Homo sapiens: one gene and its partner. The protein of the gene in region 2 purifies or fractionates together with the protein of the main gene of each other region. This does not show direct contact. Each region holds a gene or a part of one and is shown on either strand. Other genes may lie near its edges.

What was found.
Region 1: the proteins of BBS10 (region 2) and MKKS purify together in Homo sapiens (co-immunoprecipitation; 2 studies listed by IntAct, with this or other methods). This does not show direct contact.

Annotation. Positions count from the first base shown.
Region 1 is NC_000020.11:10,403,065-10,410,345, forward strand, and holds part of MKKS (molecular chaperone MKKS), read right to left. Parts: intron 5,740-7,281; coding exon 5,564-5,739; intron 4,663-5,563; coding exon 4,552-4,662; intron 2,624-4,551; coding exon 2,183-2,623; 3' UTR 1-2,182. UniProt on the Homo sapiens protein: Probable molecular chaperone that assists the folding of proteins upon ATP hydrolysis. Plays a role in the assembly of BBSome, a complex involved in ciliogenesis regulating transports vesicles to the cilia.
Region 2 is NC_000012.12:76,345,416-76,353,287, forward strand, and holds the start of BBS10 (BBSome complex assembly protein BBS10), read right to left. Parts: upstream 3,001-7,872; 5' UTR 2,944-3,000; coding exon 2,747-2,943; intron 2,373-2,746; coding exon 398-2,372; 3' UTR 1-397. UniProt on the Homo sapiens protein: Probable molecular chaperone that assists the folding of proteins upon ATP hydrolysis. Plays a role in the assembly of BBSome, a complex involved in ciliogenesis regulating transports vesicles to the cilia. Involved in adipogenic differentiation.

The DNA of each region.
Region 1 (7,281 bases), on a different chromosome or scaffold from region 2:
ACCTGCTTCCAAATTCACTCTTGTGGTTATTGGTACGATTCAGTTCCTTTTGAGCTGTTGGCTAGAAGCCTCCCTCAACCCTTGCTATGTGGGCCTCCCCAGGGGGCAGTTCCCAACATGACAGCTGGCTTCCATTGAGAGAGAAGGCATCAAGAGACAAACTCATCTTTTTACCACCAAATATCAGAAGTGATATCCTGTCCCTTCTGCTGTATTCTATTCATTAGAAGCTAGTCATTAGGTCCCACCTACACCCAGAGAGTGAACCACCAGGAAGTGAGATTATTGGGAACCATCTTAGAGGCTGCCTACCACATGCAAAATACGTCCCCCCTACTCCTCAGATCCTCAAAAGTTTCACTTTTGCATTACAACATCAGCTCAAAGTTCAGAATCTCATAATTGGAATCAAGTCAGGGTGATATCATAACTGGAATCACCCCAGGCTTCCTCAGGAGGTAGTTCTTTAAGTACAGTTCCTGGAACACAGTTGCTTTCCATCTGTAGACCCATGAAACTAGAGAAAAGTTATCTGCCTTCTACTCACAGCATAAAATTATGGATAAGGCATAACCATAACCATCACCATAACATTCTGTCCACAAAGCTGGGAAATGGGAGACATAAAGGAGTCACTAAGTCTAGCCCATGCTCAAGGGGAGGAAATTATGCAAGGTCTGAAACTAGGAGGTGGGGCCACCTTAGAGGCTGCCTACCACACTGCCCTTCTATTTGATTGTAATAATAAAAGGAGTAAAACTTTTGATAAATATTTTATGAGACTTCAGGTGGGGCTGATACCTAACATATATGGATGGCATTGCTGCTTGTATTGCTAGTTTTTTCCTTTGGCTCAGAGTAAAAATTCTTTTTGATTACAAGAATATCAGAGGAAATTGTTTAACAATTCTATTTCTCTTTATCATGGCTATAGATCTGATCATTGACTATTAGGTTGGTTTGTTTCCCAAAAATTTCCAAAATATTTTCCTAAAGTTTAATACAACATTTGTTATAGCTCCATGCTTATTCATGTGGCTGCCTTCTATATTTCTTCTTCAATTTATCAATACATCTTATATTTGCATAAAATTCAAACTACATCCCTTGGTGAAACATAATGTCTCTACTTTGAACATGGGAGATTTTCTACTTTCTTTTTCATACTATTGACTAGAGAAATAACTTCCCCTTCCCTTTATGCTGCTTTCTGAAGTCCTGCTAGAATACTCCTTATTGTCCTTCCTTTTTCTATCAGTCTATGGTTCTCAACCAACAACAGTTTTGCTCTTCGGGGGACATTTGGCAATGTCTGGAAACATTTTTGGTTGTCACAACAGGAGGGTGCTACTGGCATCTAGTGTGCAGAGGCCAGGGATGCTGCTCAGTAAGCTGTAATGCACAGGGCAGCCTCCGTACAACAAAGAATTATGGGGCTCAGAATGTCAATAATGCCAAAGTTGAGAAACCCCAGTGTAAAACAAACCAGTCCTTCTTCCCACTTTAAAAATGAAGACATTACAATGTTGCTTTAGCCTTGGTTACTATATAAATCTACTTTTTCCCCCCAAAAGCAAACATTTCCCCAAAATAACAAAAATGTGGAGTTGTGATATAAACTACAAATTGCAGGCAAACCAGGTTCTACTCAATTACCTAACCACTGAAGAATATAGCTTGAGATAAAGGGCATGGAGAAAAGTGAAATTTTACTAAATGTGCAGTTTGAATACTTCTTTTGATTGAGCAATATATACTGAATGTTTTGTGACACTTTGAGATCTAGTTTTATACTTTAAGCATATGTAATTACTGCTAACTGGAAAATATCTAAAATATGTATATCCAAACTAGAGCATGGATTAGGAGTCTTTTTTATTTGTTTGCTCTCAAAATGATGCCAACATAACAAAAATTTAGAACAATGTACAGCAGCCAGTATAGAATCCCTAAGATAACTATAATATTTTTAAATAAATAATGCTTCATATTTTTATTGTTTCATGGCATTTCCATTCACGAATCACCTTTTTTCCTAAATAAGTGTATCTATAATTTTATGAGTCATTTGTCCAAATATGTAGAACAGGGCTTTGGGAGAAAACAAATACACTCACAATTTTTCTCAATTGCCAACAGACTAGTTTATTTGTTTCTCTTGTAATACGAACATGCTATTCTCTTAGTTTTTATCTTCAATAACATATGAAAGATCCAAAATCAAATTGGCTGTCTCTACAGCCACCTGTAGGCCACTAAGCTTTGCAGTCAAACAGTCCAAGGTCAGGTTGCTGGCTGAGCCCACAGCTTCATGTGGAAGGCAGCTTTGTGGCACAAATGGACGACGTGTGCTTCTTAAGAAAGACCAGTTGAGTTCTTCCTGGCTATTGTATAATCCACAGCCACACTGTGAAAGCAAATCTGGCCAGTTAGCAACACAGGGAGAATCTGCCTGAACTGACCAAAGGTGTCCATACTTCATGTCAGTGAGAATTTCACCTCCATCATGTTCTAAAGAGCCAACAACAGATTCTAGGGCACTGCAAAATGCTTCAGCAATTAATTGAAGTTCTGTTTGAGTACATTCATCATCTTTGAGAATGCTTTCTGGGTCGTTGTGAGTCTAAAGAGTAATAAAAACATTGAAAACACATACAAAGCAATTAATATAAAATGTTTCAGAAAAATAAGATACTGAAATCAAAATCTTATTCCTAAAGTAATTACTTACTTTCATTTAATTTGGGGTCTGGCACAATGCTAACGGGCTTGTATGGGTCAGCCGGCCGGGTTGCAAACCCTTAACTAGGTTGGTTATAGTAAAAATGTATTAAAAATGTATATACTACCAGTCATGTTACCAGAATGAGTGAATCAGAATAACCCCACCATCAGCTTATTCTGAATGAGGCTTGGTAGTGCCTCCTTAATACATGAAGGACTAGGCATAATACATGTATTACAGGTTTTTCTGCACACAGGAGGAAGTTCCTGAAGACTGATGTCCCAAATGGAGTACTTATTTATCTCTGCAAAATGTTTGAGATTTGCTTAAAATGGGAATGCACATATTTTTATTTGGAAATCATGATGTAAATTTTCATATCAATGTTTTAAAAATGAATATTCTTCTCTTTAAATTAATGAAAAGGTAATAAGACCTTAAACAGTCTTCTGGTTCCACTATTTAAAAATGTTTATCCTAGAAATTCCATGATAAAAAGAAAAATTAATATATAGCCATGCACCACATACCAACACTTCAGTCAATGATAGACTGCATATACAACAGTGGTCCCATAAGATTATAAGGCCATATTTTTACTAACCTTTTCTGTGTGTTGATATGTTTAGATACATAAATACCATTGTGTTACAATTACCTACAGTATTCAGTACAGTAATATGCTGTAAGGGTTTGTAGCCTAGGAGCAATAGGCTATACCACATAGCTTAGGAGTGTGGTAGGCTCTACCATGTAGGTTTGTGCAAGTACACTCTATATTGTTTGCACAACAATATTGTCTAATGATGCATTTCTCAGAATATATCTTTGTTAAGCAACATGTCTGTATTAGCAAACTAATAACTGAATGATGGGTTAAAAAATCCATATCTTAACTGCTTAAAAACAGTGACTACTTTCCTACTCAAGACACCTCCTTCCTCTAAAAAACTTTCTCTAGTTTATCAATTCCATTTCAGAATACATTATTGTCCATTCAGCACCAATAGATTGGCACAAATTTTGTTTTCCATAATGTATATTCTGATAACTTTTCATGAATGTGCTTTATCTTCAAAGAGATTCTAAGTTATTTGGGGAAGGACAGGGCATGTTTACCCAATGAATCGATTGCTAATATCTGGAAAACACCTATACCTTTTTCTATCCATTTTCAAATAAAGTAGGCCAGTACTTATGAAATAATCAGAACAACAATGCACTAAACTTATCTGAGAGCTGTCAGGAAATGGAGTTTCCTAGACCAATCAAAAAATTCTATTTAGTATAATTAATAAATAACATACATAAATACCAATTTTAAAATTATAATAGAATCTAATATGTGAATTGCTTAAATAAATGAAACTTTTCTTGATGCTCTAGAAGATACTGAAGTATTCTGTAGAAACTTGGCCCTTTTGTTTGTGAACATCAATTATTACTGTATTGCAGCAGTTGAGATCTCTAAGAGAACTCCCAATAACAGAATGCTAGCTTCAACATGCAGAACATGTAGACAATACTCAAAGAACGTGATCGCTTGCTTAAATATTTTTATAATAATCATTGTAATAAGGATATTACCTTATATTTACCTTGTTATTTCCCTCAAGTGTTTTTGATTATCTACTTTATTTAGACTACTGAAAAATTCAGTGTTAAAGGCTACAAGTTTACCTGTATAACAAACCTATACATGCACCCCTGAACCTAAAAGTTAAAACTAACAAAAAGACTATAGGATATTATGATTTTGGCTTATTATCTCAGAAAACAAAAGTTGCTGAGAATTCAGGTAATCCGAAGAGGATTATCTTACATACCTTGTGTCTGATATATGCAGCCAAATGAGTTTCAGTACAGCCACCTCCCAACAAAGCCCATGGTTCCTTGAGTGTTAACTGCAGGACATGCAGTGCCGTCTGACACGTGAGCTAAGAAAAAACCCAAATCATCAGAATCAGACGTTCACATCATATTAACACACAAAAAATCATGCTCTCAAAGCATCATAGTGAATACAGAGAGTGTGATTTTAATTACAAAAGAACAAAACTTGTGTGGTGCCAAGGTTGTCATGTGATTAATACATTCTGAATAGTAAGGTTTAGAGATTAAGGGAAGATACTTCAGTCAGAAGTTTGTTTTCACGGAGCCAGATTAGTATTTTCTTTCATATACACTTAGCTCTTCAAACTGAGACGAATATATGGCCTCAAAATATCTGGGTCAACAAGGTTTGCTGACACTTCCACTAAAAAAATCATTTCAGTCTAAATAATAAATTTATTTTGAATGGATTTGGAAATAATACAGTTACATCCCAGCAATAATAAATAAAAAATCACACAGACCTTTAACATTTACTAAGGATATATCCTTGAGCATACATGAATCTTTAAAACTTGTGACCAATCCCATAGATTATCATTTCCCTTGTATAAAAGTTGCATGTATTATTGCTGGCAGAGAACAGGAAACTCTGCTAAGAAGTGGATGATGGGTATTGACTGGGGAACTCATTTTTCCAAGTGAATTATTCATACACATTACCATCAAAGACTACACAATTCAAGCTAATTTCTTAGAAAAGTTCGCATGTCAAGGGCCTTTTAGGTTTCTAGTAAATAGTAGAAATAATAAATGGCAACACATGCCAAATTTATTATAATGCCACAGGCATTTAAATTAGCTTACTTGTGACTTTGCATCAATCATTTTAATTTTTGCTTTCTATACTACCTAGGGAAGCTACGAAAAAAAAATCATAATAACTATTGAGTGACTAATTCCTCCCTCAGCCTCTGCATATGGAATTCAAAGTTCATTACCTACCTTCAGCTCATCCCAGGCAGTGTCATTTCTGTTGCAGAGAAGCAAGCTGCAGATTGTTGCTTCATTAGGAATAAGATGAAAAAAATGTTTGGAGCCAAATTTTGCAGTGCACACATCTTTCACACTTCCATAACTATTAGGACATATTGAGCCTAGGGATCCAATAGGCTGTGTTCCTATTTTTTAAAGATTAGAAAATACAAGTTGTATAAGCAAAAGTGGAGCAAACAACCATTTAAAAGTATATTTATTCCTAGCCAACATAAAAGCCCCACAAGCATATAATTTAAAATATGAAATACAGGATAAATAAGATGAATATTCCTAAACTGCTAAGTTATATTCTGCTATTAAAATGATATACAAATAAAGTAAAGTAGAAGTTATTTTTGTTTACAGATCTCTTTGAAAATCTTTTAGAAGTCATTTTGTACTGTCTTCCCAGAAAAGGGCACATACAATTTTGCATACATTTTCAAGGAATTCAGAAAACCCTCAAAGCCCATTCAGGGTTTAGAGACCCCAAATTAAGAACTTCACTAATTTGGATTACGGGTGATGTGACAGGCTATTTTTTTTTAAAGGCATTATTATTTTCAATTTAAAATAAATGCTGCTATCCAAATAGTTGTGTAGTTGAATTCCTTCGGGACGCTACATAGTGAATATGTAAGAATTATTTTTTTGTCTGGCAACTATTTATAAAATAGCTAACTGAATTATGCCAAAATAAAGTGACATGCTTATTTCACTGCTATTATTTGATATATTAAGTATTTTGTCCTCCTACCTGCACATGTAAAATAGTGAAGTTTTATAAACCACAAGTAAAAATATGAATAAAGAAGTTAGCGTGACTTGAATTTTCCAAATCTCCAAACGTAATGGAAGTTATGTAAGAAAAGAAACCTACATCAAACTCCTACAAGAAACAATACTAAAGTCTAAAGCTATAATTCTGAGCCATTCACCCCTTTCAGCTAGTTTCCTTTTCTTTCAGACTCACCTTTAAAAGATGGTTTCTTTCAAACTAATGGGGTTTAGTTTGAAAGTCTAAAATGTCGGCCGGGTGTAGTGGCTCATGCCTGTAATCCCAGCATTTTAGGAGGCTGAGGCGGGCATTGCCTAAGGTCAGGAGTTCGAGACCAGCCTGGCCAACATGGTGAAACCCCGTCTCTACTAAAAATACAAAAACTAGCCGGGCGTGGTGGCAGGTGCTTGTAATCCCAGCTGCTTGGGAGGCTGAGGCAGGAGAATCGCTTGAACCTGGGGGGCAGAGGTTGCAGTGAGCAGTGAGCTGAGATTGCGCCACTGCACTCTAGCCTGGGCAACAGAGCGAGACTTTGTCTCAAAAAAAAAAAAAAAAAAAAAAAAAAAAGCTAAAATGCCTAAAAACACTTCCATCTCAAAAAATTTATAGAATATAATCACTAAACAATTTCACTTATTTGAATATTGTTTACTTCTGAAATATTCAAGAATAATGAATACTTTAAAAAAGTGATCTAAGTAAAAAACCCAAAATCTTATAGTATAATTTCTTTCACATGGTGGGAACAACAGATTCTGCATGAGAAGGCCGGCTCTACTGCTTATCAGCCACTGGATGCTGTCACTCATGTCATTTAACTTTTCTGCCTCCCTCACATGAGAGGCAAGTGGGGATAATAATGCATACTTCACAAATAAATCAAACCAAGTCAAATGTTAAAAATGCT
Region 2 (7,872 bases):
ATAAGCCCACCCAAATCAGAGATTAAATGATTCTATGAACTAAACATGTAACGATGAAGGAGGGCTGGAGTGAAAAAGATACAGGAGAGTAAAAAGGAGCTATAAAGAAAAACCCTCCCCTAAACACATAGGCTAACACAGAGCTGAGACACAGAGGCATAAAATAGGGAAAAAACAGACACACTTAGCCAAATCTTGGCTTCCCCTCTAGATTTGTTCCATAAAGTAATTTAATATTTGTATCTGGTCTGGTGACCTTAGTGTGCTTCTTCTAAAGACTTTTAAAGTTACGCTATTTTCCTAAGTAGACTGAACTGACTTTAGAACCAGTGGTCACATGACTGCTTTACTTGGCTTGAGTTAGATGAAAAGTTTGGTTAATTAAAAACTTCTGATGTTATAGTTCATCTTCTGAATCTTGATTGTGAACTTTCTGAGGGTGTCTCTTAACAGTGATTACCATGTCAATGGTTAATATTTTTGTCAAACACTGAAGAACTGAAGTTAGTAGCTGGTATTTACCCATTACTGATTCCAAACCTGTCTGACTGCTTACCAAGGGTTGATTGGTTTGCAGTGCATGGACAGCTCTTATATATGTATGTGGAAAGCTGTACTTTCCTGTTTTAGATTTATAAAGGACTTTGGGAATGCCTAAAAGTGCATTAGCTATTATCATACTAACCATGGTTTCTTCTGATTGATGGCATTTTTTGGCATAATTGAGAAGATAGTAATGTAACAAGATCTCAAAATTACCACCTACTGGCAAAACACAACCAGCTGGCATAGATGAGGAAAGGTAACTCTGGGAAGTACCCATATTCGGTAACTTACAGCTCACTGGTAACATGCTTCCCTTTCTAGTAATATTTGTGACCTGTAAATTTTCGTAAGAAATTTCTATTCTATTTCCCCTTGTTGAATAAGCAGTGGAATTGTTCTTGAGTAATGGTTCATAATAATCAGTTAGCCTGTTTCTTTCCAAAGACAAACATGTCAGCGTTTCAACTGTTTGGAATGTATCTGTTGGTGTCAGTGTGGGGGTTGAATACGGAATATATGTTTCTAATTCTACATCTGGAATTACCAAATTAGAATGTACTTTTAAATATGTTTGAGTTTTTTCCAATGCATCTTTGTTCTCTGCAACTGTGTCCTGATAAGGCCTTTGTATTGAGCCATTACCAGGATCTGGTGCTTGATAACTTTCTCCACTGTTCTTATAAATAAAAAGACTTGAAGTGCCATTTTGGTCATTGGTTTGTGTCATGTAATTTAGATCAAGGTCTTTAAATAATTGCCGAAGCATTTTAAGTGCTCCATGTAAAGCATCCTCATGTTGTTCAATGAGACCATGCACTGGTCCACAAAGAACTATAGAGTGTGGTATAAATGCACATGTGCTTATCAAGCCTAGATGAACATATCTTTTGGATCTAAGGATAAGAGGTTTACAAAATTTCACCAAAGCAGTGTTAGGTATTTCACACTGCGAAAAGGCCTGTGGTGGTACAAATGGAGAAAGACCAATGATCCTCCGGATAAGAGAAACTTCTTCTGATGATAAACACTCAACCACTGATATGCCATTCACCCCTGCATAATAACTAACTAAATCTGGTTGTTTCACACTAGATATGAGCAATTTTACATTCTGACTATGTAGATGTTTCATTATTGCTTTTGTCTTTTCCATAATCCAAAATTGAGATGTCTGAAACTGTGCTTCTGAATTTAGAATAAACTCTGATCCAGAAGTGGAAAAAAGAGGCTGAATGGTTTCTGTTACTATCACCATTCGCATGTCACCATCTGCTGGGCGGTACACAGAAAAATCTTTCTGAAGCACAAGACCAGCTATGATCCTGGAATCTGAAACAGGAAGGCCAGTGACACCAACATTCAACTCTACAAAATGGTCATCCACTAACTCAAATACACCAATCCCACTTTTACAAGTCATACACTTGAAAAAGTAGTCACACATCAACTGTGAAATAAATTTATGATTATTTCTTCCCACTCTTCCACAAAAGTATGCTTCTAAGAGCAACTCTAAAGAGCTCCTACACAATGTTCTCTCTTTAGCAGACGAAAAGATAGACAAAAAGTGTCTACTTAGGTACTGGTCCATAATACCGTCTAATATTTGTGTCTGAAACGTTAGGAGAGCCTGGGAAATAAATTTCCACCGAGAACAATTTTTCCAATGCCTTCCATGGGTTTGAATGTTTTCACACATCAAAGGATCCTTTTCTCTGTCTGTGATTGCATGAAGTCCTCTAAGCAAATGGCAAAGAAAGATAATAAATGTTTTTGCACCATCTCCTGTTTTTTTGAGATGACTGGAAACACAGTCCACTATCATCCTGTACAAAAAAGAAATAAAGCAACTCATTTTCAGAAGGCTGGCTTCCCACATCTTAAAACCATGTTTACACAGCCATAAGCATAAAATGAGAATATTGTTCCTTGGATACATCCTTAGTTTTTTCCTTTCTTGGAAAAAACTCTGCTCTATTCCAAGATTCCACCGTTGGGTGGAGTGGGGAGAAGTGGTCTTGAGAATTGGTAAGATTTGGGGTGCAGGAGTGTTCCCTTGGGCAGGGCTCTAATTCCGAGCATACAGCGGTTTCACCCGAGGTCAGTCTTTCTAAGTACGCATCGCCTCAGGATGGGACAAGAGCTCCACAGAGGCTGCCTGGGGTGCCCGGCTACGGGTTAGCGTGTGGGACGCGGGTACCTGGCTATGGGATGCTCTAAGTGTAGCGCCTCCAGGAGGCGGCCTCCATTCCGGCTGAGAAGCACCTCGCCAGTGGGCTTCGTACACAAAACTTGCCGTCCCTCGGGCCCCACGCAGCAGCTCACGATGGCTTCCAGCACCTCGGCCACCTGCAACGCCGCCTTCACAGACCCTGCAGCGGCCATAGAACTTAACATATCTGGGCCGCTTCCCCTTTTTGACCAGCTTGCAGAACACCCGGGCCGACCGAAAACAGGGGTGGGAACGGCCGGAAACGGAATAGGCGGGGAGAAAACCCGGAAGCCAGGAGTCGAAGCCGGGGTAGCACGGCTTCTTGGTTGGGCGAGAGGGCTGCCCTTCTGTCCGCCTGGTGGAAAAGCCCTGCAGCTTTGCCAGGTGGGGTGAGCTGGCCCGTTGTACGCGAAGGCAGAAAAAACAGACTAGGATTTCCAGCAGCTGTGCCTGGAGCGGCAACCCTAAGCCCCTCCCCGGCTCCCTAGGTGAATTCATCTCCCTCCAGTGGCGTCCGCTGCCCCCAAATCCCTTAGTCTCCCGAGAAACTTTCTTCCTAAGTCAACACGGTAGTGGGGCCTGCGTGAAGGAGAGGGCACCCCGGTTGGAACTCTGCTGGCTTTCATCCCCTGCCAGAAGCTGCTTTTTCCGGGGCAAAACCTCTGCCTTGGATTCACGCATGTTCCTGTCCACATTCCCCACGAGTTGCTCTCCTTACCATAACGGAAATAATTTGTAGATGCAGGACAGGTGAGGAGAGCCTGGCCACAGCCATGAATTGCAGGCTTTATGTCTGCTGCAGAGGCTTTACCACATTTCCTAGACTCAGGTATCACAATAAAACTCTAGACACCACAAATATATTAAGCAGAAATGATGCGAAGTCTCTATTTTTTGAGATGGACTCCCGCTCTGTCGCCCAGGCTGGAGTGCAGTGGCGCAATCTCGGCTGACTGCAACCTCCGCCTCCCGGGCTCAAGCGATTCCCGTGCCTCAGCCTCTCAAGTAGCTGGGATTACAGGCATACGCCACTGTGCCCCGCCAATATTTGTATTTTTAGTAGAGATGGGGATGTCACCATGTTGACCAGGCTGGTCTCGAACTCATGACCTGAATGATCCACCTGCCACGGCCTTTCAGAGTGTTGGGATTACAGGCATGAGCCGCTGTGCAGATTTAAATCCATTAATCACGTCGGTGATCAACAGTATGCTTTAAAACACATGGCCAAGGATTATTGTATATAACCCAAAGACAGAAAATACTGTCTCTTATAACATTTTTTTTGTTTTTTAAGAGATGAAGTTTCACTCTGCCGCCCAGGCTGGAGTGCAGTGGCGAGATCATAGCTTACTGCAGCTCCGCATTCCTGAGCTCGTGATCCTCCTGTCTTAGCCTTCAAGTCGCTTTGTGCCTCACTACGCCTGGTTATTTTCTCTTTTAGTAGAGACAGGGTCTCCCTGTGTTGCCCAGGCTGATCTTGAATTCCTGGCCTCAAGTGATCCTCCCAACTTGGCCTTCCAAAGTTTTAGGATTACAGGCATGAGCCACCTTGCCTGGCCTAAAACACAGGCACTTGAGAGCATGGGCTTTGGATTCAGACCTGGATTTGCTCTGTCATTTCCTTACCTGTGGCATTCACCAAGTAACCTCTTTGATCTCTGCTTTTCTCATCTTTAAAAACAATGGGCCTGCCGCAGTGGCTCATGGCTGTAATTCCAGGACTTTGGGAGGCCGAGGTGGGAGATCACAGGAGGCCGAGAGTTCAAGACCAGCATGGCCAACATAGCAAAATCCCGTCTCTACTAAAAATACAAAAATTAGCTGGGCATGGTGGTGCATGCTTGTAATCCCAGCTACTCTGGAGGCTGAGGTATGAGAATAATTTGAACTCGGGAAGGGAGGTTGCAGTGAGCCAAGATTGCACCACTGCACTCCAGCCTGGGCGACAGAGCGAGACCTTGTCTCAAAACAAAACAATCCCCGCCAAAAAAACCAGTGGAGATAACATATACAAAATAAAAATCTCAAGAGGTTTTGAGTAGGTGGAGAATGTTCACTAAACACTTTGCATAGTGCCTGGCATAGTTAGCACTCAACAGATATTTATATTACACCTGTTAGAGGAAAAGGGTCCCAATCCAGACCCCAAGAGAGGGTTCTTGGATCTCATGCAAGAAAGAATTCAGGACGAGTCCATAAAGTGAAAGCAAGTTTATTAAGAAAGAGGAATAAAAGAATGGTTACTCCATAGGCAAAGCAGCCCCAAGGGCTGCTGGTTGCCGATTTTTATGGTTATTTCTTGATGATATGCTAAACAAGGAGTGGATTATTTATGCCTCCCCTCTTTAGGCCATATAGGGTAACTTCCTGACATTGCCATGGCATTTGTAAACTGTCTTTGGTGCTGGTGGGAGTATAGCAGTGAGGACAACCAGAGGTCACTCTCGTGGCCATCTTGGTTTTGGTGGGTTTTGGCTGGCTTCTTTACTGCAACCTGTTTTATCAGCAAGGTCTTTATGACCTGTATCTTGTGCCAACCTCCTATCTCATCCTGTGACTTAGAATGCCTTAATCATCTGGGAATGCAGCCTAGATCTTAGCCTCATTTTACCCAGCTCCTATTCAAGATGGAGTTGCTCTGGTTCAGATGCCTCTGACGCACCCACCAAATTACTGGAGTTGCTCTGGTTCAGATGCCTCTGACGCACCCACCAAATTACTGTGGTAGGTCACCACTCTCCTGGTTTATTATTCCCACAAGTGATATTTTGTGAGATGCAGAAGATTCAACTAGCATAATGGCACAACATACATCATCTAGAGTCGAAGCATGCCAGTATTAGCAAGAAAATGATCTTGTAGATGTTTCACGAGGTTGGACAATGAGGGGCCGTTTTCCTTAATCCTTATTGCTATGAACAAGATAGGAGGAACCGGCAGGCCCTCCCATCTTTTTCTCCCCAATTAATAAAACCAAACCAAATGACAGCCAGAAGCAACTGGACCCTGAGCAGAGAGCAAGAATGGGAAGAAAGGAGGGTGGGGGAAAACCAGAGAGGAATGATGTCTCGGAACTCATCTGATGTTGACTCAGTATGGACTAATAGGTGATCTGAGGGGGGAAAAAAAAACCCTTTCATATGGATTTCGTATATGTTTAATAGTAGGGTTTTTTTGTGGTGCTACTCATAACAAAGGGGTTACATTACTCAATATAGATTCAAGCAGTGGATTATATTCCTGACATTTAGAAGTGAAGTGCTATTAGAGTTCTATTTAAGTGTACCACGGAGATACAGATTCAAACTTGTGCTTTTACTCTTAAAGTAAGAGTCGGCTACCACTCTTACTCCGCAGCTTTTGGAGACTTTCAACCTCTCTGAGCCTCAGCATCTTCATGTATAAAATCTGGCTAACGTCCACCTAAGGTTCTCATAGAGGATTCGAGAAGAATGAATATAAGGCACCAAGCAAAGCATACTTCAGGGATTCTCACTGTTGAATCCCTTTCAAGCCCTTTGCCATCCTTTGCAGCTATCCCTATCCCCACAAAAGGGGGGATTAAAACAAATTAGCAATAATTTAGTCATCATATTGTATTAAAAGTCACTTGATCACCGTTTGCTCTTTTTAAAAATTTTATTTAGAAGCCTACTTGTAGAAGTTAGCATAATTTTACAGATTATTAGAAAAATTCTTTTCTTTCTGCAAACAGTTATAATAGGTTAGGAATAATAGATTAGAAATGTACTACATTACAAAACAGTGGCCTATAACTATCTGTACATTTACTGTGCACCTTAAGGAAAAGAATTTGACAGTGTGCTGTACTTACACTGCAGGTAACATATTTTTATTCTATCACACAAAACTGACCAGTGGTAGTGCTTGAATTTATGAATGGCCATTAAACAGAACATTTAAACTCAGATGTATATTTAGCATGCTAAAAAGTGAAAAAAATTTCAACTGAAGTTCTGTGGCTCATCAGTTCAAATGTTTCATGGCATTTTTTTTCTTTAAGTGAAAAATTTTGATACTGTAAAACAGTTTTACATAATAAATGCAAAAAGATAACATTTTCTAAATTTTTAGAAAGAATATTCACATTCATTTTGTCATGGGTTTCACGTGGCTCTTCTAAATATATTAATCATATTAATAAGACACTGGTCCTATACAATTTCAACAGTCCATCTTCAATTAAAAACTAACAAAAATAAACAGTATGTAAAGAGTAACAAAAAGTAAATTAAATATACTAAACTCACACAACAGGTAGAATAAAATGAAACCAAATTACATAATGGCAGGTTATACATTTTAAAGAATCTCTTTCCACTTAGTCAAATAAGATAGAAATTGAAATGTAAACTTACTGATTTCTGTGGGATTTTCCCCACTGGTTCAAATTGGAAAATTTGATATAAATCTAATATTTTATTTCTGTACATTTAATATGATTCAATATAATCTGCAGTCTCATGTATGGCTTATCAATAATGCCATCATCACTGTATGTCAAACAACCTCACTGCTTACTAGAAATGCTAAACACTGGAAAAAATGGAATTTTATACATTTGTTTTCTTAAATTTTGACAGATATTCTTCAGAAAGTTAAAACTGCCTTCCACAAAATTTTGTGTGTATATGGCACAAGGTGACAGCCAAAAAGTGTGATTCCATCGAAAAGGCACTGTTAACAATACTCAGAATAATCTGACAAGTCTACATCAATGTCTGAGTAAAGAATAGGTAAATAGACAAACCCCTATAAAAGATAGTATTATTGTTTAAATATACTATAGCTATATAAAAAGAAAGTAACACACAGAAATGACCCTTTTATGACAAGCCTATAAACACCTTGAATCACATTATAGTTCTGTAACACAAAAAATGACAAAAAATATTTTCTTAAAGGCACAAAAGCATGAATATTAAATGAGAGTTGTATTTTACAAGGCCAACTTTTCAATGGAATGCGGTTACCAACTGAGCTGTGACAAAGAGTACACTGTACCTTTATAAGTGATATAAAACAAAAAAGTACTAACATGAAATACAAATAAAATATCTATTGCTGTAACTTAACATTTCACATGCCCT